3 linked regions of the Homo sapiens genome follow. The protein of the gene in region 1 binds, or shares a complex with, the protein of each later gene. Each region holds a gene or a part of one and is shown in the gene's direction. Other genes may lie near its edges.

Region 1 (7,800 bases):
AGATCTCGTTCTAGAACACCAGCCCGCCGGGGCAGGTCCCGCTCTAGAACACCTGCCAGGCGGAGATCACGATCCAGAACTCCCACCAGGCGTAGGTCTCGGTCTAGAACACCAGCCCGGAGGGGCAGGTCTCGGTCTAGAACACCTGCTAGGCGCAGATCTAGGACCCGATCACCAGTACGACGCAGGTCTCGTAGTAGATCACCAGCCAGGAGAAGTGGCAGGTCACGCTCTAGAACCCCAGCTAGACGTGGCCGCTCACGCTCCAGAACCCCAGCCAGACGTGGCCGCTCACGCTCTAGAACCCCAGCTAGACGCAGTGGTCGCTCACGCTCCAGAACACCAGCCAGGAGAGGGAGGTCTCGGTCTAGGACACCAAGACGAGGAAGATCCCGCAGTAGAAGCTTAGTTAGACGTGGAAGATCTCACTCTAGAACACCTCAAAGAAGAGGCAGATCTGGCTCATCTTCAGAGCGGAAAAACAAATCCAGAACATCTCAAAGAAGAAGCAGGTCCAATTCAAGCCCAGAAATGAAGAAATCTCGCATTTCTTCAAGGCGGAGCAGGTCTCTCTCTTCACCACGGTCCAAAGCAAAATCTCGCTTGTCTTTGAGGCGCAGCCTTTCAGGGTCTTCCCCATGCCCTAAACAAAAGTCACAGACACCACCCAGGCGCAGTCGCTCTGGATCCTCCCAACCTAAAGCTAAATCTAGAACGCCACCCAGACGCAGTCGCTCCAGTTCTTCTCCGCCACCTAAACAGAAATCTAAGACACCATCAAGACAAAGTCATTCCAGTTCATCTCCTCATCCTAAAGTGAAATCTGGAACACCACCGAGGCAAGGGTCCATAACAAGTCCCCAGGCCAATGAGCAATCTGTAACGCCACAGAGACGGAGCTGTTTTGAATCATCACCTGACCCTGAGTTGAAATCTAGGACCCCTTCTAGACATAGCTGCTCAGGGTCCTCTCCTCCTAGAGTGAAATCTAGCACACCTCCCAGACAGAGCCCATCTAGGTCATCATCTCCACAACCCAAAGTGAAGGCAATAATATCACCAAGACAAAGAAGCCATTCTGGCTCCTCTTCTCCAAGTCCTAGTAGGGTGACGTCGAGAACAACTCCACGGCGAAGCAGATCAGTATCTCCCTGCTCCAATGTGGAATCCAGATTGTTGCCAAGATACAGTCATTCTGGGTCCTCCTCACCAGATACCAAAGTGAAACCTGAAACACCGCCAAGACAAAGTCACTCAGGGTCTATTTCACCATACCCCAAAGTAAAGGCCCAAACTCCACCGGGGCCAAGTCTTTCTGGATCAAAGTCACCATGTCCCCAAGAGAAGTCTAAAGACTCACTAGTTCAAAGTTGCCCTGGATCCCTCTCTCTCTGTGCAGGAGTAAAATCTAGCACACCACCAGGCGAGAGCTATTTTGGTGTCTCATCTCTGCAACTGAAAGGACAATCTCAAACTTCACCAGACCACAGATCTGATACTTCAAGTCCAGAAGTGAGACAGAGTCATTCAGAATCACCATCTCTGCAGAGCAAATCTCAAACATCACCTAAGGGAGGTCGGTCCAGGTCTTCATCTCCAGTCACTGAGCTGGCATCCAGATCTCCAATAAGACAAGATAGAGGTGAGTTCTCAGCGAGTCCTATGTTGAAATCTGGAATGTCTCCTGAGCAGAGCAGGTTCCAGTCTGACTCTTCTTCATATCCTACAGTGGACTCGAATTCTCTCTTGGGGCAGAGTAGATTGGAGACTGCTGAATCAAAAGAGAAAATGGCCTTACCCCCTCAGGAGGATGCTACTGCATCACCTCCTAGACAGAAAGACAAATTTAGTCCCTTTCCAGTACAGGATAGGCCTGAGTCTTCACTGGTATTCAAAGACACACTTAGAACCCCGCCAAGGGAAAGAAGTGGTGCTGGGTCATCTCCAGAAACAAAAGAGCAAAATAGTGCATTGCCTACGTCAAGCCAAGATGAAGAGTTAATGGAGGTGGTAGAGAAGTCTGAAGAACCCGCAGGCCAAATCCTGTCTCATTTGTCTTCAGAACTTAAAGAAATGTCCACAAGTAACTTTGAATCATCTCCTGAAGTAGAAGAAAGGCCTGCTGTGTCTTTGACTCTTGATCAGAGCCAGTCACAGGCTTCTTTGGAAGCAGTAGAAGTCCCTTCAATGGCCTCATCTTGGGGTGGGCCACATTTTTCTCCAGAACATAAAGAACTGTCTAACTCCCCACTCAGGGAGAACAGCTTTGGATCACCTTTAGAATTTAGAAACTCAGGCCCACTTGGTACAGAAATGAATACTGGATTTTCTTCTGAGGTTAAAGAAGATTTGAATGGACCGTTTCTTAATCAGCTGGAAACAGATCCATCTCTAGACATGAAAGAACAATCGACAAGATCCTCTGGACACAGCAGTTCTGAGTTATCCCCAGATGCAGTGGAAAAGGCAGGGATGTCTTCAAATCAGAGCATCTCTTCACCTGTGCTTGATGCTGTACCCAGAACACCCTCGAGAGAAAGAAGTAGTTCTGCATCTTCTCCTGAAATGAAAGATGGTTTACCCAGAACTCCATCAAGGAGAAGCAGGTCTGGGTCTTCTCCAGGACTTAGAGATGGGTCTGGGACTCCCTCGAGGCACAGCCTGTCTGGGTCCTCTCCTGGAATGAAAGATATACCTAGAACGCCATCTAGAGGGAGAAGCGAATGTGATTCTTCCCCAGAACCGAAAGCTTTGCCTCAGACTCCTAGGCCGAGGAGTCGTTCTCCATCATCCCCAGAGCTCAACAACAAGTGTCTTACCCCCCAGAGAGAAAGAAGCGGGTCAGAATCATCAGTTGATCAGAAAACTGTGGCTCGGACTCCCCTGGGGCAGAGAAGTCGTTCGGGATCCTCTCAAGAACTTGATGTGAAACCCAGTGCATCCCCTCAGGAAAGAAGTGAGTCAGACTCTTCTCCAGATTCTAAAGCCAAGACAAGAACCCCACTTCGGCAGAGGAGTCGGTCTGGATCATCTCCAGAGGTTGACAGCAAATCTCGACTATCCCCTCGGCGCAGTAGGTCTGGTTCCTCCCCTGAAGTGAAAGATAAGCCAAGAGCAGCACCCAGGGCACAGAGTGGTTCTGATTCCTCTCCTGAACCTAAAGCTCCAGCCCCTCGGGCCCTTCCCAGACGAAGCAGATCAGGTTCATCAAGCAAAGGCAGAGGCCCTTCTCCTGAAGGAAGCAGCAGTACCGAGTCCTCTCCTGAACATCCGCCCAAATCCAGAACTGCTCGCAGAGGTTCCAGGTCATCACCAGAGCCCAAGACCAAGTCTCGTACACCACCTCGACGTCGCAGCTCTCGATCATCTCCGGAGCTAACAAGGAAGGCCAGACTGTCCCGTAGAAGCCGCTCTGCCTCATCCTCACCAGAAACTCGCTCTAGAACTCCCCCAAGGCACCGGAGAAGTCCCTCAGTGTCTTCCCCGGAGCCAGCCGAAAAATCGAGGTCTTCACGCCGACGGCGCTCAGCTTCATCTCCACGCACTAAGACAACCTCAAGGAGAGGCCGCTCTCCTTCGCCAAAGCCTCGTGGACTCCAGAGGTCCCGTTCCCGCTCAAGGAGAGAGAAAACAAGAACAACCCGACGTCGAGATAGGTCTGGATCTTCTCAGTCAACCTCTCGGCGAAGACAGCGGAGCCGGTCAAGGTCGCGGGTTACTCGGCGGCGGAGGGGAGGCTCTGGTTATCACTCAAGGTCACCTGCCCGGCAGGAAAGTTCCCGGACCTCCTCTCGACGCCGAAGAGGCCGCTCTCGGACACCCCCAACCAGTCGGAAGCGTTCTCGCTCACGCACATCACCAGCCCCGTGGAAACGCTCTAGATCTCGAGCCTCTCCAGCCACTCACCGGCGATCCAGGTCCAGAACCCCCCTGATAAGCCGACGTAGGTCCAGATCTCGAACTTCACCAGTCAGCCGGAGACGGTCAAGGTCCAGGACTTCAGTGACTCGACGAAGATCCCGGTCAAGAGCATCCCCAGTGAGCAGAAGGCGATCCAGATCCAGAACGCCACCAGTAACCCGCCGTCGTTCAAGGTCTAGAACGCCAACAACACGCCGCCGCTCCCGTTCTAGAACTCCACCAGTGACTCGCAGAAGGTCCAGATCCAGGACTCCACCAGTAACCAGGAGGCGATCTCGAAGCAGAACTTCGCCTATCACTCGCAGAAGATCAAGATCCAGAACATCTCCGGTCACCCGAAGGAGATCTCGATCTCGCACATCTCCAGTAACTCGAAGAAGGTCCCGCTCTCGAACCTCACCAGTGACACGCCGCCGCTCTAGGTCCCGGACACCTCCAGCTATTCGGCGCCGCTCTAGATCTCGAACGCCACTGTTACCACGCAAACGTTCTCGAAGTCGCTCACCACTTGCTATCCGCCGCCGCTCCAGATCCCGTACTCCACGAACAGCTCGGGGTAAACGGTCCTTAACAAGATCTCCTCCAGCCATCCGCAGGCGTTCTGCATCTGGAAGTAGTTCTGATCGTTCACGATCTGCTACTCCTCCAGCAACAAGAAATCATTCTGGTTCACGGACACCTCCAGTAGCACTCAACAGTTCCAGAATGAGCTGCTTCAGTCGTCCTAGCATGTCCCCAACACCTCTTGATCGCTGCAGATCACCTGGAATGCTTGAACCCCTTGGCAGCTCTAGAACACCCATGTCTGTCCTGCAGCAAGCCGGCGGCTCCATGATGGATGGTCCAGGTCCCCGAATACCTGACCACCAGAGAACATCTGTGCCAGAAAATCATGCTCAGTCCAGGATTGCACTTGCCCTGACAGCTATCAGTCTTGGCACCGCTCGGCCTCCTCCGTCCATGTCTGCTGCTGGCCTTGCTGCAAGAATGTCCCAGGTTCCAGCCCCGGTGCCTCTCATGAGTCTCAGAACCGCACCAGCAGCCAACCTTGCCAGCAGGATTCCTGCAGCCTCTGCGGCAGCCATGAACCTAGCCAGCGCCAGGACACCTGCCATTCCAACAGCAGTGAACCTGGCTGACTCTCGAACGCCAGCTGCAGCAGCGGCCATGAACTTGGCCAGCCCCAGAACAGCGGTGGCACCTTCGGCTGTGAACCTGGCTGACCCTCGCACTCCCACAGCCCCAGCTGTGAACCTAGCAGGGGCCAGAACCCCAGCTGCCTTGGCAGCTCTGAGTCTCACAGGCTCTGGCACACCACCAACTGCTGCAAACTATCCCTCCAGCTCCAGAACACCACAGGCTCCAGCCTCTGCAAACCTGGTGGGTCCTCGGTCTGCACATGCCACAGCTCCTGTGAATATTGCCGGCTCCAGAACCGCCGCAGCCTTGGCCCCCGCGAGCCTCACCAGTGCTAGGATGGCTCCAGCATTGTCTGGTGCAAACCTCACCAGCCCCAGGGTGCCCCTTTCTGCCTACGAGCGTGTCAGTGGCAGAACCTCACCACCGCTCCTTGACCGAGCTAGGTCCAGAACACCACCGTCTGCCCCAAGCCAATCTAGGATGACCTCTGAACGGGCTCCCTCCCCTTCCTCTAGAATGGGCCAGGCTCCTTCACAGTCTCTTCTCCCTCCAGCACAGGATCAGCCGAGGTCTCCTGTGCCTTCTGCTTTTTCAGACCAATCCCGTTGTTTGATTGCCCAGACCACCCCTGTAGCAGGGTCTCAGTCCCTTTCCTCTGGGGCAGTGGCAACGACCACGTCCTCTGCTGGTGATCACAATGGCATGCTCTCTGTCCCTGCCCCTGGGGTGCCCCACTCTGATGTGGGGGAGCCACCTGCCTCTACTGGGGCCCAGCAGCCTTCTGCATTAGCCGCCCTGCAGCCAGCAAAGGAGCGGCGGAGTTCCTCCTCGTCGTCGTCGTCCTCTAGCTCCTCCTCTTCTTCATCATCGTCGTCGTCGTCCTCCTCCTCCTCTGGCTCCAGTTCTAGTGACTCAGAGGGCTCTAGCCTTCCTGTGCAACCTGAGGTGGCACTGAAGAGGTGAGGGAGCTTGACTTTTAGAAATCTTCAGTGGGGGAGGTATTGGGGATGGGTTGGGGAGTGGGGAGGGAGAAACCATGTCACAGGTGCTTGGCTCTTGGAGGAGGTATGGGGACCTTGACCCTCAAGCTGGGGGTAGAAGAGAATGCTGGGGCAGGGGGCGGAGGGAGGAGGAATGGGACAGATAAAAGTCTCCGAAGGTTCATTCTCTAGAGGATAATGATAAGTTTTCCGTCTCTACAGAGGACAGAACTAGAGGAAATGGACTTAATTTTACAGCAGGAGGGATGGCAGTTAGACCTCAAGAGGAACTCCCTGGGCTGGAAGGATCTTCAGAGGTCATCCCATCCCTCTCCCTGCCTCCAGGCAGGACGGCCCCTTCCCCAGCCAACCTGCACTCACAGGGGCCTCCCCAAGCTGCGGCTCTCCGAGGAAGGAGACTACCCAGCTTCAGCTTCCACACCTGAGCCCAGAGGCCTTATTCCTCCATCAGGGACATTCTTGAGGTTTAACCTTGATCCCTTATGCTGCGGGCCCCAGCCTGTTGCTTCTGTTAGCAGAGGTTGGGTCAGCTCGCACCACTGCTCTCCAGAGAATTGCTGGCTCACGTGGCTCGGAGAGCTCCCAGCGCCTTTCTCAGGCACCCCTCCCCCCACTGCCGTTCCTCCAGGCCAAGGAAGGTAGGGTTGGGGCTGGGGCAGCTTGTCTCCTTGTGACACTCCTCTCCTCCCACAGGGTCCCCAGCCCCACCCCAGCCCCAAAGGAGGCTGTTCGAGAGGGACGTCCTCCGGAGCCAACCCCAGCCAAACGGAAGAGGCGCTCTAGCAGTTCCAGTTCCAGCTCCTCCTCTTCATCTTCCTCCTCCTCCTCCTCCTCCTCTTCTTCCTCCTCCTCTTCCTCTTCTTCTTCTTCCTCCTCATCTTCCTCCTCCTCGTCGTCTTCCTCCCCTTCCCCTGCTAAGCCTGGCCCTCAGGCCTTGCCCAAACCTGCAAGCCCCAAGAAGCCACCCCCTGGCGAGCGGAGGTGAGTGCTGTCTTGCCTGAGTTGAAAGGTGGGTGGGGGAGTGACTTGTCCAGAGAAGGGGCCCTGGGGTGTGAGCTCCCCGCTGGGTGTCTCACGTGGCCTTGGGCATCTGGTTGTGGGGGAGGAGGCACTTGCTCTCCTCTCCCCATGCTCGTTGCACCCTGTTCTGGCGAAGGGCTGCGCCATCCACAGCGGCGCTCAGGCCAGGACCAGGGGGTCCTTGGTTTCTTCCTCTCCCTCCCTCAACACATAGCCTGTTCCCAGGGTTCTAGCTTTGTCTCCCTGTTGCTACTGCCAGGGCTCTGGTCTGGCCACCATCATCTTCTCCCGACTCTGTCCACAGCCTCCTCCCTGTCTCCCCGTCTCCACGCCATTCTCTTCCACATGTAGCCAGAGGGACCTTTCTAAAACGCACATCTGGCTACTTCCCTCCACTCCACAAATCCTTCGGGACGCCCTGTGGCCTGCAGGACAAAGCCCCACCTCTGCGGGAGTGGCGTGTGAGGCTCTTCACCAACGGGCCTTGCCCGCCCTGTGTTCTCCTCCTGCCCGCCCCCACACATGCCCTGTGCTCCAGCCACACCCAGCGCCTTGCAGTCTAAGGAGAGCCCATGCCTTTGGACATGCTGTTCCTTCTGCCTGGAATTTCCTTGTCCGCCTGGTGAACTCCTCGTTCTGCAAGACTCCGCTCAAAACAGCACCTTCGAGAAGACTGCCCTGCCCCTTCCCTGCCTTGCCCCATGTCCCCCTCCCTTGG
Region 2 (7,400 bases), on another chromosome or scaffold:
GCAACGTAGCAAGACCTCATCTCCACAAAAACTAAAAAAATTAGCATGGCATGCTAGTTCATGCCTGTAGTCCTGGCTACTCAGGAGGCTGAGGCAGGAGGATCACTTGAGCCAAGGAGTTTGAAGCTGCAGTGAACCATGATCACACTACTGCAGTCCAGCCTAGGTGACAGAGTGAGACCCTATCTCCAAAAAAAAGTTGGTCGTACAACAAGAGCTGAGAGAGTGAACAAGAGAGTCATTATAACAGGTAGATAATGGAAAGTTTCAGAGAGTGTCAAGTTGGAGGCATTCATATGAGAAGAGCTACCATTCTGTAAGTCAGATGAAACCCACTTAATCATTGTTTTCTTGGTCTTTTCCCTCCACTCCCCACCCCCTAATTTTGTAGCCTCCTTTGTCTGTATGCAGTAGTTACCTTGTGCTTCTCTTTTGTTTAGGGACCTCCAAGATGTTCCTCCCTTCAAGCCCCAATCATGCTGCTCTCTGGACATGAAGGGGAAGTCTACTGCTGCAAGTTCCACCCCAACGGATCCACCTTAGCATCTGCAGGATTTGACCGACTGATATGTGAGGCATAGTTTTTGAATCTGGAATAATTTTTCCTGCCAGATAGTGATTTTTTTTTTTAAATCTTGGGTGCCACAGAAGGTATCACTCTATGTTGGCAACATAACAGGCTGCATGGCTAATATGCTAAAATTGGGGCATGAACATGCTGAATGATCTTGGGTGTAGAACTTGGAGTCCATGGGGTAAATACAGAAGCCATTATTTTACTAGTTGGAAAGTGAGTTGTTCTGGTTTGAGAATGTCTTCCTCATAGAGGCAAATCTCCAGCTAATTTACCAAGGCACTTAGCAATCTAGACATAACAGGTTAATGGCAGTAATGAGGAGAGAAATAACTTTTATTTTCCCAAAGGTATAAGGTCCTCTTAATTCACACCCAGAATCCTAGCTAGCATATGGGAAGGAAGGAATCCTAAAGTGGTAACTCCCTTAAATAATCTACCTGTACATCATTAGGATCTACTACCAGATTTCCATTTTTGAGAAATAAGAATTTCTCATACCCATTTTTGAGAAGTAAGTAGAAAAAGTCGTTTTATTTATACTCCAGCAAATGAAGCCAGAAGGAAAAAAAATCAGATGCTTCTGTTGCTACTTTCTTGCCAGATTATGAGATGAAATGAGTTATTTGGCTCTTTTCTGTTAACTCTTTTCCTCGGTGCCGGGTGGATGATACCCGTCTTCACTGCCCATTTTGATTTGGATGTTCCGGCTCTATGATCCTTAAGCTTACTAGTGGCCAAACGTCTGGATTGCTTAGGGATCTTTGCAGAACATATATGAATTATTGATAGGCTTAATTTCATCAGACAAACTACATAGTTTTTTTTGTTTGGTTGGTCGGTTGGCTTTTTAGAGACGGAGTCTCACTCTGTCACCCAGGTTGGAGTGCCGTGGCGCGATCTCGGCTCACTGCATCCTCCGTCTCCTGGGTTCAAGTGATTCTCCTGCCTCAGTCTCCCAAGAGCTGGGATTGTAGGCGTCTGCCACTACACCTGGCTGATTTTTTTATTTTTATTAAAGATGGGGTTTCGCCGTATCAGCCACGCTGGTCTCGAACTCCTGACCTCAAGTGATCCACCCGTCTCGGCCTCCCAAAGTGCTGGGATTACAGGTGTGAGCCACCGTGCCTGACCTGAGAACTGTTGTTCTGATAAATTTATAAGTACCCTTTGCCTAGTAATGCTCACAGAACCCATCTCCCTAACAGTACTGTGGAATGTCTATGGTGACTGTGATAACTATGCCACACTGAAGGGACACAGTGGAGCAGTGATGGAATTGCATTACAACACAGATGGCAGGTGAGTATTCTGCATAATGGAAGGACAGCTTCTCATACTAATTCTTGGCGTCCTTTCACCTTTCATCCTTTCTCAGGAGACCCTGCTATCAAAAACTACTAATTTTGGGTAGCTACTTTAGTATCCGATTTATCACTGTCACCCCAAGTGAGGTGTTTATAGTCTGTGTATGCAAATATAAAGATGTTACATCGGTCATTTCAACAACCCAGACAAATTTTTCTTTTTTTAAGACATAAAATAAATGTGATTTTTATATGTAGGCTGGAGTGCAGTGACACAAACATGGCTCACTGCAGCCTCAACCTCTTGCTCGAGGGATCCTCCCACTTCAGCCTCCCAAATAGCTGGGGCCACAAGCCCACGCCTCCATGCCCAGCTAATTTTTAAAAATCATTTGTGGAGACATGGTCTTGCTATATTGCTCCTGAGCTCAAGCAGTCCACCTGCCTCAGCCTCCCAAAAATGCTGTGATTACAATAATTAACCACCATGCCTGGCCTGAAATCAGCTATTTCTATTATAAAAATCATTTCTTTTGAGAAACCAAAAAAAGCAGAAAGATGAAAAAATAGTCTATATTTCTACCACTCCAAAGATAATCAGTGTTAATTTTTTTTTTTTGAGACGGAATTTCACTCTTGTTGCCCAGGCTGGAGTGCAATGGCACGATCTCGGCTCACTGCAACCTCCGCCTCCCAGGTTCACGTGTTTCTCTTGCCTCAGCCTCCAGAATAGCTGGGATTACAGGGATGCATCACCGTGCCTGGCTAATTTTGTATTTTTTGTAGAGACTGGGTTTCTCCATGTTGGTCAGGCTGGTCTTGAACTCCCAACCGCAGGTGATCCGCCCACCTCAGCCTCCCAAAGTGCTGGGATTACAGGCATGAGCCACCGTGCCTGGCCAATCACTGTTAATTTTATACATTTTTCTAATGCCTTTTTTTCTACTCAGAACTGTTTAGTTGTTGCATATTTGTTAGAACTATGTGTACAATCTTTTTTATTTATTTATTTATTTTATTTTATTTTTTTGAGACGGAGTCTTGCTCTGTCGCCCAGTCTGGAGTGCAGTGGTGCGATCTCGGCTCACTGCAAGCTCCGTCTCCGGGGTTCACACCATTCTCCTGCCTCAGCCTCCTGAGTAGCTGGGATTACAGGTGCCCGCCACCATGCCCGGCTAATTTTTTTGTATTTTTAATAGAGATGGGGTTTCACCGTGTTAGCCAGGATGGTCTCGATCTCCTGACCTTGTGATCCGCCCGCCTTGGCCTCCCAAAATGCTGGGATTACAAGTGTGAGCCACCGCACCTGGCCAGAACTGTGTGTACAATCTTATTTGCTCCTTTTTTCTCTTAACATTGCTCAGCCAACATCTGATGTCATAAACGTCATTTTAATGACTATATTATTTTAGAATATATTATAGATAATATAGAAATCTGGCTATACAAAAGTAATTACATTGTTAGGTAGTCTGGTAAACATTCATTGTTTTACATTTCTGACCTCTAAAATCTTAGGGTGCTCCATCAATTGATACATAGCATTGTATACATTTTAAATAAAGCATTAGAAAGCTGGGCCTGGTGGCATGTGCTTATAATCCCAGCTATTTGGGAGGCTGAGGCAGGAGGATTCCTGGAGCCCAAGAGTTCAAAACCAGCCTGGGCAACACAGTGAGACTCCATCTCAAAAAAAATGAAAAAAGAAAGCATTATAAGATCAGTTATAACTTAGAAATCATCCTCAGAGGCTGGGCGTGGTTGCTTACGCCTATAACCCTAGCACTGTAGGAGGCTGAGGCAGGAAGATTGCTTGAGCCCAGTTCAAGACCAGCCTGGGCAACATAGTGAGACCTTGCCTCTACAAATGATTTTTAAAAATTAACTGAGCATGGTGGCACAGACCTGTGGTCCCAGCTACTCAGGAGGCTGAGGTGGGAGGATCACTTGAGCCCAGGAGGTCGAGGCTGCAGTGAGCCATGATTCCAACCCGGGTGACAGAGCAAGATCTCATCTCAAAAAAAAAATGAAAGAAAGAAATTGTCCTCAGAGACAAAAGAAAAACTTTGGTAAAGAGAAAAGATTGGAGTCACTCAGCTGTCAGGTCGGTACCACAGTCTGTCTGATCTCTGCAGCACCAGGGAGTTATTAAACATTTCCAAGTGAGAGGGTGTCTTATGTTTAAAATGTTAGCTATCACAAAAGAGGAAAAGATAGAGCAAACTGCTACATTAGATGTATGTCATGGGGACTCAAAGAAGGGGAATTTTTTAAACTTCACAGGGGTAGATCTTTTATCTGGGCCATCTGGGCCTAGAGGACAAATAGGATTTTGGTAGGGTGAGGCATTCCAGCATCATGGGCAAACTGGCGTAGCACAGCAGGTCAGTGATCTTGAAAAATTTGGCACCTTTTGTCAAGTAGGAAAGATAGATTGTTACTGTTTATCTTCACTTATTTCTTTTTTATTCTTTCTCTTACTTTCTAGTATGCTTTTCTCAGCATCCACAGATAAAACCGTGGCTGTGTGGGATAGTGAAACAGGTGAGAGGGTTAAAAGGCTAAAGGGACATACTTCCTTTGTGAATTCCTGTTATCCAGCCAGGAGAGGCCCTCAGCTTGTCTGCACTGGCAGTGACGATGGCACAGTTAAGGTGGGTATTGTCTCTCCGTGTTCCAGTTTCTGAGGTGATGTGATGTGAACCTTATCTTGCCTTGCCACTTGTACTCTAGCTTCCTGTGCAAAACTTAATTTTAGCAGTCATCTCCCATAACACACTTGAAATTTTTCCCCATTTAAAATAAAACATTTAATACAAGTTTTAATTACCCTACAGAATAATAATAGAACCATAGAATAAATTGTTACTTGAAATAGGCCGGGTGCTGTGGCTTACGCCTGTAATCCCAGCACTTTGGGAGGCCGAGGCGGGTGGATCACGAGGTCAAGAGATCAAGACCATCCTGGCTAACACGGTGAAACCCCGTCTCTACTAAAAATACAAAAAATAAGCCGGGCGTGATGGCGGGCACCTGTAGTTCCAGTTGCTTGGGAGGCTGAGGCAGGAGAATGGTGTGCACCCGGGAGGTGGAGCTTGCAGAGATTGCACCACTGCACTCCAGCCTGGGCGACAGAGCGAGACTCTGTCTCAAAAAAAAGAACTGTGACAGTAATATACGTGTCTTTCAAGGCTGTTATGAGTATCTCCACCAACAGGGAGGTAGCAAAAAAAAAAAAAAGGCTGTTCTGAGATTATAGACAATATATAAAAAGTTCAGTGAATAGTTTTAGTATGGCACAAGATGGGAACTTAAACATCGTTTAGTCAGATGGTTGCCAGCCTATCTTTATATCATCATCACCTGAAGAACCTGTTAAAAATACCCAAAGAATCTGGTTCAGTGGATCTGCAATGGGAATCAGATATTTTAATGTGTCCTTCAAGTGATTCAGTGTAGCCAGTCTCACATTCTGGGAGCCACTGATCTCACTGAGCATCCTCATTTTATAAATAAGGAAACTGAGGCCTAGAAATAATAATTTATCTCAGAGGCACACAAGGACACAGTACATCATAGTACCAACCATTTGATTCTCTCTTTGACACGAATTTTGGGCTCTGGTTTATATTTTAATTGTTAAACAGTGAGGGACTTCAAAAGAGTACATCTGGGAAACTACACCCCCATACTTCTTATTGCTTTTTAAATGAATTAATGAATTTGCTTTTTTTTTTTTTTCTTTGAGACAGGGTCTTGCTCTATCGCCCAGGCTGGAGTGCAGTGGCACAATCTTGGCTCACTGTAGCCTCCACCTCCCGGGTTCAAGTGATTCCCCAGCCTCAGCCTCTTGAGTAGCTGGGATTACAGGTGCACACCACCATACCTGCCTAATTTTTCTATTTTTGGTAGAGATGGGGTTTCACCATGTTGCCCAGGCTGGAGTGCAGTGGCGCAATCTCAGCTCACTGCAACCTCTACCTCCTGGGTTCAAGCAGTTCCCCTGCCTCAGCCTCCCTAGTAGCTGGGACTACAGGGACCCATACCACGCCCAGCTAGTTTTTGTATTTTCAGTAGAGGCAGGGGTTCATCATATTGGCCAGGCTGGTCTCAAACTCCTGACCTTGTGATCCGCCCCCCTCGGCCTCCCAAAGTGCTGGGATTACAGGCGTGAGCCACCACACTTGGCTGAGACGTTTTTCTACTGAGTGGTTTTCTTATACCTAATCACTTGGGGCCCCTTGATGGTTGGATGGGAGGAGAGTCTGTTGTTTAAGATTGGTTTCTAAACCAGAGCTCTGACCTAGATGTCACTGTAGTTGGAGAGTCTTAACAGTAGCTGATTTACTAATTGTCATTTCAGAAGATAGTAAGAGGTGGAAATGCCCCAGTGAATTTTGTTAACATTATTATTGAGGGCCTGCTGTAATAAATATCTAGGAACTATTTAGGTAGTAGAAAAAGAGTATATGTCCTTTCTGTCTGCCTTCTTTTGGTTTTTTGCTTCTCTTCTGCCTTAATTAAACATGATTTGGAATAGTTATTTTTACCTTATTACTCAAGTTAATACTTTTTTTAATAAGCAGTATGTCACATCACCTAAAGATGACTGCTTTTTAACCAGCTCCTATTTTTAATGTCAGTATATTTATATTTAAGGCATCATTAAACAGCTTTTTGCAATGTACTTTTCAGTTACTTGTGAAGTTGGAATGCTTTGTGTTCTTGTATTTTTGTTACTAGGTTGCAAGTACAGGAATTGAATAACTTCAGTTTAAGAGGAAAAAAAGTCATGTTGCTTTTTACATGTCAGAGTTCTTAACAGAAAGCAAAGGTTTCCAACAGCACTTGCATTTTTAGTCTAAAAGCATTCTGGGCATTATTCATACAGATCGTTTTCAAACTTTTTATCAAGTGCATTCTTCTAATAAAATTAAGTGAAATACTGCGTGTATGTGTGTATGTACTCATATATATATAAATTTCCCTTTCATGAGCAGTTCAGTCCTAAAGCCAGTTATATAGGCCAAAGCAGGGAAGGTGCTCTAGTTAGAGATGGGCCAAGGTGGCCCAGAGTAGAGTGTCAGAGCACAAGTGTGGTAAGGAGAGCATCCACACTGGGCAGGGCAGTACATTGTAGGGAGTAGTCAGAGAGTGAGGAAGGCATCCATACAACACAGGGTAGGTAACCAGTGTGGGGAATTTGAGGGTGAGGGAGGGGCAGCAGCCCAACAGTGCCCTAATGGGGTGAAAGGGTCGCCTGTACGTGAAGCAGTACGGGGAGAATGTGGATGTCAAAGCCTGAACTGAGGGCATCCACACAGGGTAGAAATGATTTGGTGTAGGGAGTCTGAGACTGAGCAAGATGATGACTGCATGCTTGGAGAAGTGCAGACTGGAAAAGAGCCGTAGCAGAGTGATGAGGGTGTTCACACAGAGGAATGACCCAAGTTGGTTAAGGAAGAGTCACACATGGCTTCAACCAAGAATGGGAATCACAATTCAAGTAGGGAAGGGTG
Region 3 (8,035 bases), on another chromosome or scaffold:
AGGCGCCCATAATCCCAGCTACTTGGGAGACTGAGGCAGGAGAATCACTTGAACCCGGGAGGCAGAGATTGCAGTAAGCCAAGACTGCGTCACTGTACTCCAGCCTGGGTGACAAGAGCAAAATTGTGTCTCAAAACAAAAAACAAACAAAAAAGAAGAAAGTAAGTTGACACATTTCATCCCCAAATCCTCTGGCATGCATCTCCCAAGAATAAGAACGTTCTTCTACTTAACCACAATGTCATTAATACTCCTAAGAAATTTAGCAAAAATTCTACAATGTTGTCTATTATCACTCCATATGCAACTTTCTCCAAATGTCCCAAGAATATTTTTTATAGTTTTCCCCAACTGAACCAGAATCCCATCAAGGTTTACTAATTTTATGTGTCATGTCTCATCAATCTGTTTTCATCTATTCTATTCACATCCATTCCATGACATTGACATTTTGTAGAGTCTCAGTCAGTTGTCTTGTAGAATGTCTCACATTCTGGATTTTACTGATTGTTTCCTCATGCTTTTAAACTTGTTACTCTATCCCCTGAATTTCTTGTGAACTGGACATTAGGTCTGGTTTGATCAGAAAATTGGTGAACTTCCGGCCAGGTGCAGTGGCTCATACCCGTAATCCCAGCACTTTGGGATGCCAAGGTGGGTGGATCACTTGAGGCCAGGAGTTCAAGACTAGCCTGGCCAACATGGTGAAACCCCATCTCTACTAAAAATGCAAAAATTAGCCAGGCGTGCTTGCTCATGCCTGTAATCCCAGCTACTCGGGAGGCTGAGGCAGGAGAATCGCTTGAACTAGGGAGGCAGAGGTTGCAGTAAGCCGAAATCGCACCACTGCACTCCACCCTGGGCAACGGAGGAAGACTCGGTCTAAAAAAAAAAGAAAGAAAGAAAGAAAGAAAGAAAGAAAGAAAGAAAACTGGGGAACTTCCTATTAAAAGCACCTAGTGTCAGATTGTTCCACTGTTAGTGAAGCAAAAGTGATGACAGCCAAATCTCTCCATCGTAAAGATACGTTATTTCTTTCGCAGTTCCTAAGTAATCATTGGCTCTAGCCTTTTTAACTATGCTTTAATGCAAACCAATATTTTAATTAAAAAAAAATTTTAAACATTGAGAGGGCACGTAAAACACATCCAAAAAGTAAGAACGGTGTGGTGGAGCAGCTCTACTTTTTATCAGAGAATGATTATAATAATATAGCCATAATAACTAAAGCATAATGGCATCAGAGCATAAAATACTGGCATTGAAGTAAATTTAAAAAAACATCCTATAGTAGAAAATGTTAGTGGGAAGGTACCCCAGAAATAAAATTGAGTTCAACTGCCTCACTTTGCAGATGCAAAACCTGAACCTTAATAAATTAAGGCCAATTCATTAAAGCCAGAAAGCATAATTAATTTTTGAGCGCTTACTCTATGCTGGGCATTTTTCTAAGCACTTCACATGATTAACTCATTTAATCCTCCCAATAGCTTTATTGAGGATAAGTTATACTGATTCCACGCCCCTCACCCTTTTTATTGGCCAGTGAGAAAACTGAGACAGAGAGAAGTGACTTATCCAGAATCTACAGCTCATAAATTAGGGAGCTGGGATCAGAAGGCAGGAAAGCTGACTCCAGAATATGTGCTTAACTTGTCCTCCCTACCACCTCACAAGCTATATTACTTGTGGCTACATAGCCACACCTACTTAGGAATCAAATTAGGCCCTAGGTTCTCTGAGAACAATTCTACTCTCTATCCAGAATTCTAAGACTGGAGTGAATTGATTGCTTCTTGCAACCTGGCGCATTACTGATTCCAGCATGCACTGGGCTCTCTACATGAGCAGGCAGCTGCTAATTACCTATGATAATGAGGGATGGATAGGCACTGAAGATTCAGCATAGCTTAACACCAAACCCCCTCCCCAACAAAACCAAAGAAAGCACTAGGCCTTTGGGTATAATATTGTATCACGTTTGCAGTAGATTTGCTTTCTTAATTGTTTTGATAGGATTGCTATTAAAGTCAGTTTCTATTCTTTACACACCCCCAAAACAGCGAGGGACTATGACTGGTGGAAATGCCTTGCATGATGTGCCTCTGTGGAAAATGAGAGTGGATTGCAAAAGCTCTTCTCCACCCTGTTCTTTCAATCCTGCATCCCAGGTCTTGGTCTATGTCTTACTGATTTCCCATGTTAATTATTTTAACCTTGTCCTCAGTAGCCTCCTTTGTCTCTCATTGCCATAGAAACCCATTCTGCCTTAAGAATTGTCTTTCTTGCCTGTTCCTTTGACCCAGGCCCTCTACTTAAGTCCTCCTTCAGCTGCAAATCACCTGCTGAACTAAATCTAAGCTCCTTGATCTTGGCTTCCAGGACGTTCTATAATTTGCTTCTCTGTTTTTCTCCTTTTAGAAATAATACATTCCTGGAGCAGAGGTTGAAGTAGATCACTGTCAACCAAAATATTAACTGTAATAACTAACATATTTACATAGTACTTAAGAGTTAAGTAAAAACATATCCACCTACATTACCTCATTTAAGGCTCATACTCTGCTGTATTGTATATAATTATTTTACATTTATATAAATATAGGTAAAGCAGATAACATGATCAGCATTTTAAGTTCAATAAAACTGGGGCCCAAATAAATTAAATGACTTGCCCTATAAGAATTTATTGGTGCTGAAGCTACATCTTTTTTTTTTTTTTTTTTTTTTCTGAGACAGTTTCACTCTTGTTGCTCAGGCTAGAGTGCAACGACGCACGATCTCGGCTCACCACAACTTCCGCCTCCCGAGTTCAAGCGATTCTCCTGCCTCGGCCTCCCGAGTAGCTGGGATTACAGGCAAGCACCACCACGCCCGGCTAATTTTGTATTTTCAGTAGAGACGCAGTTTCTCCATGTTGGTCAGGCTGGTCTCAAACTCCCGACCTCAGGTGATCTGCCCGCCTCAGCCTCCCAAAGTGCTGGGATTAAAGGCACAAGCCACCACACCCAGCCAAAGCTACATCTTAAACTCTAATCTTCGGGCTCCCAGGCCATGCAGGTTATATTACACAATGTGATTAACAATCCTGTATTTACCAAAAGATTTTTTCTTTTTGTTTTTTTGGTTTACATGCTGTGGCAGGCAGAATTCTAGGATATCCCCCAAGATCTCCTCCTCACCCAACCCCCACAGTACCTGACCTACATAACCCCTGGGGCCATGACTATGAAGATTCTGATTCTGTTATGCGGTGTGGCAGAGTTGATTTTTTTTTTTTTTTTGAGACAGAATTTTACTTTGTCACCCACGCTGGAGTGCAATGGTGCAATCTCGGCTCACTGCAACCTCCACCTCCTGGGTTCAAGCGATTCTTGTACCTCAGCCTCCCAAGTAGCTGAGAAAACAAGAGCACATCACCACACCCAGCTATTCTTTTATATTATTTATTTATTTATTTATTTATTTATTTTTATTTTTTGAGACGCAGTCTCACTCTGTCGCCAGGCTGGAGTGCAGTGGCGTGATCTTGGCTCACTGCAACCTCCGTCTCCTGATTCACACGATTCTCCTGCCTCAGCCTCCCCAGTAGCTAGGACTACAGGAGCGCGCCACAACGCCCAGCTAATTTTTGTATTTTTAGTAGAGACAGGGTTTCACCATGTTGCCCAGGCTTTGTCGAACTCCTGAGCTCAGGCAATCCGCCCGCCCCGACCTCCCAAAGTGCTAGGATTACAAGTGTGAGCTACTGCGCCCGGCCAAGAGTTGATCTTAAAATAGGGAGATTATCCAGGTGCTCCTGATCTAATCACATGAGCCCTTTAAAAGCAGGGCATTTTTCTCCAACAGTGGCAGAAGAGGAGTCAGAAAGATGTGCCTCAGAAAGCAAATATCCATGTTGTGAACTACCAATAAATAGGGCTCATGTGGGAAGGACTCGAGAGTGACCCCTAGGAGCTGAGGGTGGCCACCACTAACAGCACAAAACAAAACAGGGAACTCGATCCCACAACCGCCAGGAACTGATTTTTGCCAACAAGAATGAGTTAGGAGATGGATTTTTCTCCAGAGCCTCCTATGAGATTTCAGCCTTGTCATACCCTGGGCAGAGAACCCAGACACTCGGTAAATTACCAAGGATTACGAAATATCTCCCCAAGAGAGTGTTTTGGCGGGTGAGAGGATATGGTTTAAAGAAAAGTTTTGAGTGTGAATGTTTTCAGAGAGTCCAAGGACTCTCCATTAGCTAGTCTCATTATTACCTGTCGTTTTAAACGCCCTATCACTCTTACTTAAAGTAGCTGTCCCCGGGAAGCTTTTGTATTTTGTACCCCTTCTCGGGGAACGGGACTGAGTAAGGAACGTAATAAAGCGGCCTAAAAGGCATCTCCCTGTATCTTTGATATTTTGCCTAGGGAACGCCCTATCATGTCGCATATAAGCGATCGAGTTATGCATTTGTTGCTAGCTGAAGAGATTATTCCTTGATAACCGCTTGGTCTGGTCAGAATACAAACGGTACTCCTGTTCAAAGAACTACAAATCCCAGAAGGCCTTTTCGGCCAGAGCGCCTGCGCATCGCGCACTCCTTCCTTTCCGCTCCTCATCATCTGGAAAGACCCGCCCAGCGGTGCTGTCGCTCGCGCTGGAAGAAGCGGAAGAAGATGGCGCTCACCAGGTGGGTTGTTGATTGGGGTCCTCGATACGGAAGGGTCTGGGAGTACCAGTCTTCTTCATTTCTCTTCCCATACCCTCCGGGCGGTGACCTGACCCGGGGCACAGAATGACGTGGGCCAAGACTACGGCTACGCCCTCCCGCTGGCCGCCGCTACGACTAGGCCTAGTCGAAGCTGGGGTCTTTCAGCGGTTTCCCGGGTTTAGTTCACCCGCTCACCGAGGCCGAAAGCTGCGGAGTGGTCTCAGACACTGAAGAGTGGGTTTTTCGCGTGAGCATCTTGCGGGGAGCGGACAGCGCTCCCTCAGGTCCGCGGCTCGGGCGAACGAGATGGGGTTGGTGACGGTAGTGGCTTATTTGGGCGGAGTGAAGCGCGCGGGCTGCGACTGCGCGGCTTTCCGGCCGTTTGCCTGTGGTGGTCTCTCTCCTTTCGCTGTCCACTGGGTGTCCCGAAACAAGGATTCCTGAAAAAAGAGGCCCGGAGCTGAACACAGATTTAAATGAGCCACAGTAGTGACCGCCGTCTGCTGATATGCGCCACTGCTCCGCATTTTAACTTTGGAGCTTAGAATTTCTTCCGTAGATAGAACCACCTCAGTTTTGCTGTTTCCGGTTACCTTAGTAACCGTCTGTAAAGTGCTCTCCGCCTTTAAGAAAAAGATGCTTTTCAGTGGGAGAGTCCGAGAAGTTACGCTACTCCTACTAGTTCCCAGCCTTGCTGCCCCATTTTAAGTGGAAAAACTTTCCATGCGAACTCAACAGGAAAAGGCTAGTGTTCAGGAAGGTTATAGATAAAGTAATCCTTTCAGGACATCAGCTTGAGCTCTTTTAACACCCTTCATTCTCCTCACGCATGTTTTTTTTTCTGGCTGATGACAGTATGACTCCAAAAGTTTTAATCAAAAAATTATTTTGGGAATTACTGTTGGTGCCTTGCTCTGTCCTGGGGGTTGTGTACACAGAAGAAAATCTGTCTTTGGCAACAGGGAAGATAGGGGTGCAAGGTATACAGACATAAAACAATTACAGAACACAAAATGTGCATTTGTGTAATACTAACCTTAGTGCAAAAAGAATTGAATGGAATAAGTTATGTGGGCTGGAGAGTTTTCTCCCCACCCTCGTTTCTAAAATTTTTTTGCTTTTTTTTTTAACTTTATTTTTTGAGATGCGGTCTCGCTGTGTTGGCCAGGTTGGTCTTGAATTCTTGGCCTCAAGCAGTCCTCCTGTCTCGGCCTCCGAAAGTGCTAGGATTACAGGCATGAGCCACCATGCCCGGCATCTGAAATTTTTTTAAAAAAAAACTAGAAATAGGGTGTTACTGCGTTGGCCAGAGTGGTCTCCAACTCTTGGCCTCCATCAATCTTCTCACCTAGGCCTCCCAAAGTGCTGGGATTGCAGGCATGAGCTACCATGCCCAGCCAAGAGTTTGTTTAGTAAATGTTACAGGCAGCAAACATTTGAGTGCTCCCCAGGTGTGAGACACTGTGTCATAGACTAGTAAAGTTATGAGGGGAGACTTTGTGGAAAAGGTGGAATTTGAAATGGACACACAGGAAAAATTTCTAGAGATGTCATGGGTATTTTTTATTTATTTTATTTTTTGATATAGGGTCTCACTCTTGCCCAGGCTGGAGTGCAGTGGCCCAATCACAGCCCACTGCAGCCTCAACCTCCCAAGGCTCAGGTGATCCTCCTGCCTCAGCGCCCTAGAGTAGCTGGGACTCTAGACGCTTGCCATGATGCCCAGTTAATTTTTGTTTTTTTTAGTAGAGATGGGGTTTTGCCATGTTGCCCAGCCTGGTCTTGAACTGGGCTTAACTGATCTGATCTACCCATCTCAGCCTCCCACAGTGCTGGCATTACTGGCGTGAGCCACCACATCATCTGGCCTGTCATGGGTATTGCGTGCTTAAAATTGCAGTGGCAGAATGCGATCTTTAAATGGCCAGTCTTGAGGACTCCAGAGCTTTCCATACCTACCATCTGGTGTTCCTCAGTATTCTTTGTAATATCCTTTAAATCAGTAAACACATTTCCCTGAGTTCTGTGAGCTGCCCTAGCAAATTAGTTGAACCTGAAGATGAGGTCATGGGAACCCTGGTTTGTAGTTAGTTGGCCAGTGGCCTTGGACCTACTGTTGGCATCTGAAGTAAGGGCAGTCTTGTGGGACTGAGCCTTCAACCTGTAACATCTGACAGTATCTCCAGGTAGATAACATCAAAATTGAATTGAATTAGAGGACACTTGACTGGTGTCCAGTAGACACAGTTGATAGCTTGCTTGATATGTGGGGAAAAACCATCACACATCTGGTATCAGAAGTGTTGTGTGTTGTTGATTGTTGAGTGAAATAATAGGAGAAACTGAGTTTGTTTTAATTTTATACTCTATCCACATGGAGCTTACACTCTAATGGGACAGAATTGGAATTCTAGTGGGACAGAATTCTAATTAGCTTACATTCTAATGGGACAGAGTGAGTAAAATCATAATGCAATTTCACGTAATACATGCTAGGAATAAAATAAAGACCGGGTTAGAGAGTGACTCAGAGTTTGGGGTGAAGTGGCTATTTTGGGTAAGGTGGTCAGAAAACAGCTCTAGAGAGAGGTAACTGAGCAGAGACAAGAGTGCTGAGATGCAAGCTGTTGAAAGATCTGGGGCTACTCTAGGCATACTGCCTGTGGGATAGCCCTGCCCAGCAAGGAGCAATCAAAAAAGAAAAGATCTGGAGATCTGGAGAAGAATTTTCTATAAAAGCATACGAAAATTTGTTCTTTTTTTTTTTTTTTTTTTTTGTGGCAGAGTCTCACTCTCACCCAGGCTGGAGTGCAGTGGAGCAATCTCAGCTCACTACAAACTCCACCTCCCAGGTTCAAGTGATTTTCCTGCCTCAGCTGGGATTACAGGCGTCCGCCACCACGCCCGGCTAATTTTTGTGTTTTTAATAGAGACAGGGTTTCACTATATTGGCATGGCTGGTCTCGAACTCCTGGCCTCAAGTAATCCACCTGCCTTGGCCTCCCAAAGTGTTGGAATTACAGGTGTGAGCCACCTCGCCCAGCCGGAAAAATTGTGATTGATTGCAATAGATAGATAGATAGAGAAAAATTGTGATTGATTGATTGCAATAGAGAAAAATTGTGATTGATTGATTGCGATAGATAGATAGATAGATAGATAGATAGATAGATGATTAGATTGATTTGATGGCAGAAGGAATAGCCAATGTAAAGATCCTGAGATGGCTTGTTTAAGAAAAGATAAGAAGGCTGTAGTGAAATAAAGATGGTGAGTGCTGGGGAAGAGTGTATTTATTTCTCCTACAACATTTAAGGAGCTCGAGCTGTGAGCTAG

What was found.
Region 2: SRRM2 (region 1) and SNRNP40 share a complex: the UniProt entries of both Homo sapiens proteins name them as parts of the minor spliceosome.
Region 3: SRRM2 (region 1) and SNW1 share a complex: the UniProt entries of both Homo sapiens proteins name them as parts of the minor spliceosome.

Annotation. Positions count from the first base shown.
Region 1 is NC_000016.10:2,762,242-2,770,041, forward strand, and holds part of SRRM2 (serine/arginine repetitive matrix protein 2), read left to right. Parts: coding exon 1-6,020; intron 6,021-6,755; coding exon 6,756-7,043; intron 7,044-7,800. UniProt on the Homo sapiens protein: Required for pre-mRNA splicing as component of the spliceosome. As a component of the minor spliceosome, involved in the splicing of U12-type introns in pre-mRNAs.
Region 2 is NC_000001.11:31,286,389-31,293,788, reverse strand, and holds part of SNRNP40 (U5 small nuclear ribonucleoprotein 40 kDa protein), read left to right. Parts: intron 1-440; coding exon 441-570; intron 571-1,782; coding exon 1,783-1,876; intron 1,877-4,369; coding exon 4,370-4,535; intron 4,536-7,400. UniProt on the Homo sapiens protein: Required for pre-mRNA splicing as component of the activated spliceosome. Component of the U5 small nuclear ribonucleoprotein (snRNP) complex and the U4/U6-U5 tri-snRNP complex, building blocks of the spliceosome.
Region 3 is NC_000014.9:77,757,757-77,765,791, reverse strand, and holds the start of SNW1 (SNW domain-containing protein 1), read left to right. Parts: upstream 1-4,635; 5' UTR 4,636-4,664; coding exon 4,665-4,678; exon of another isoform or gene 4,679-5,024; intron 5,025-8,035. UniProt on the Homo sapiens protein: Involved in pre-mRNA splicing as component of the spliceosome. As a component of the minor spliceosome, involved in the splicing of U12-type introns in pre-mRNAs.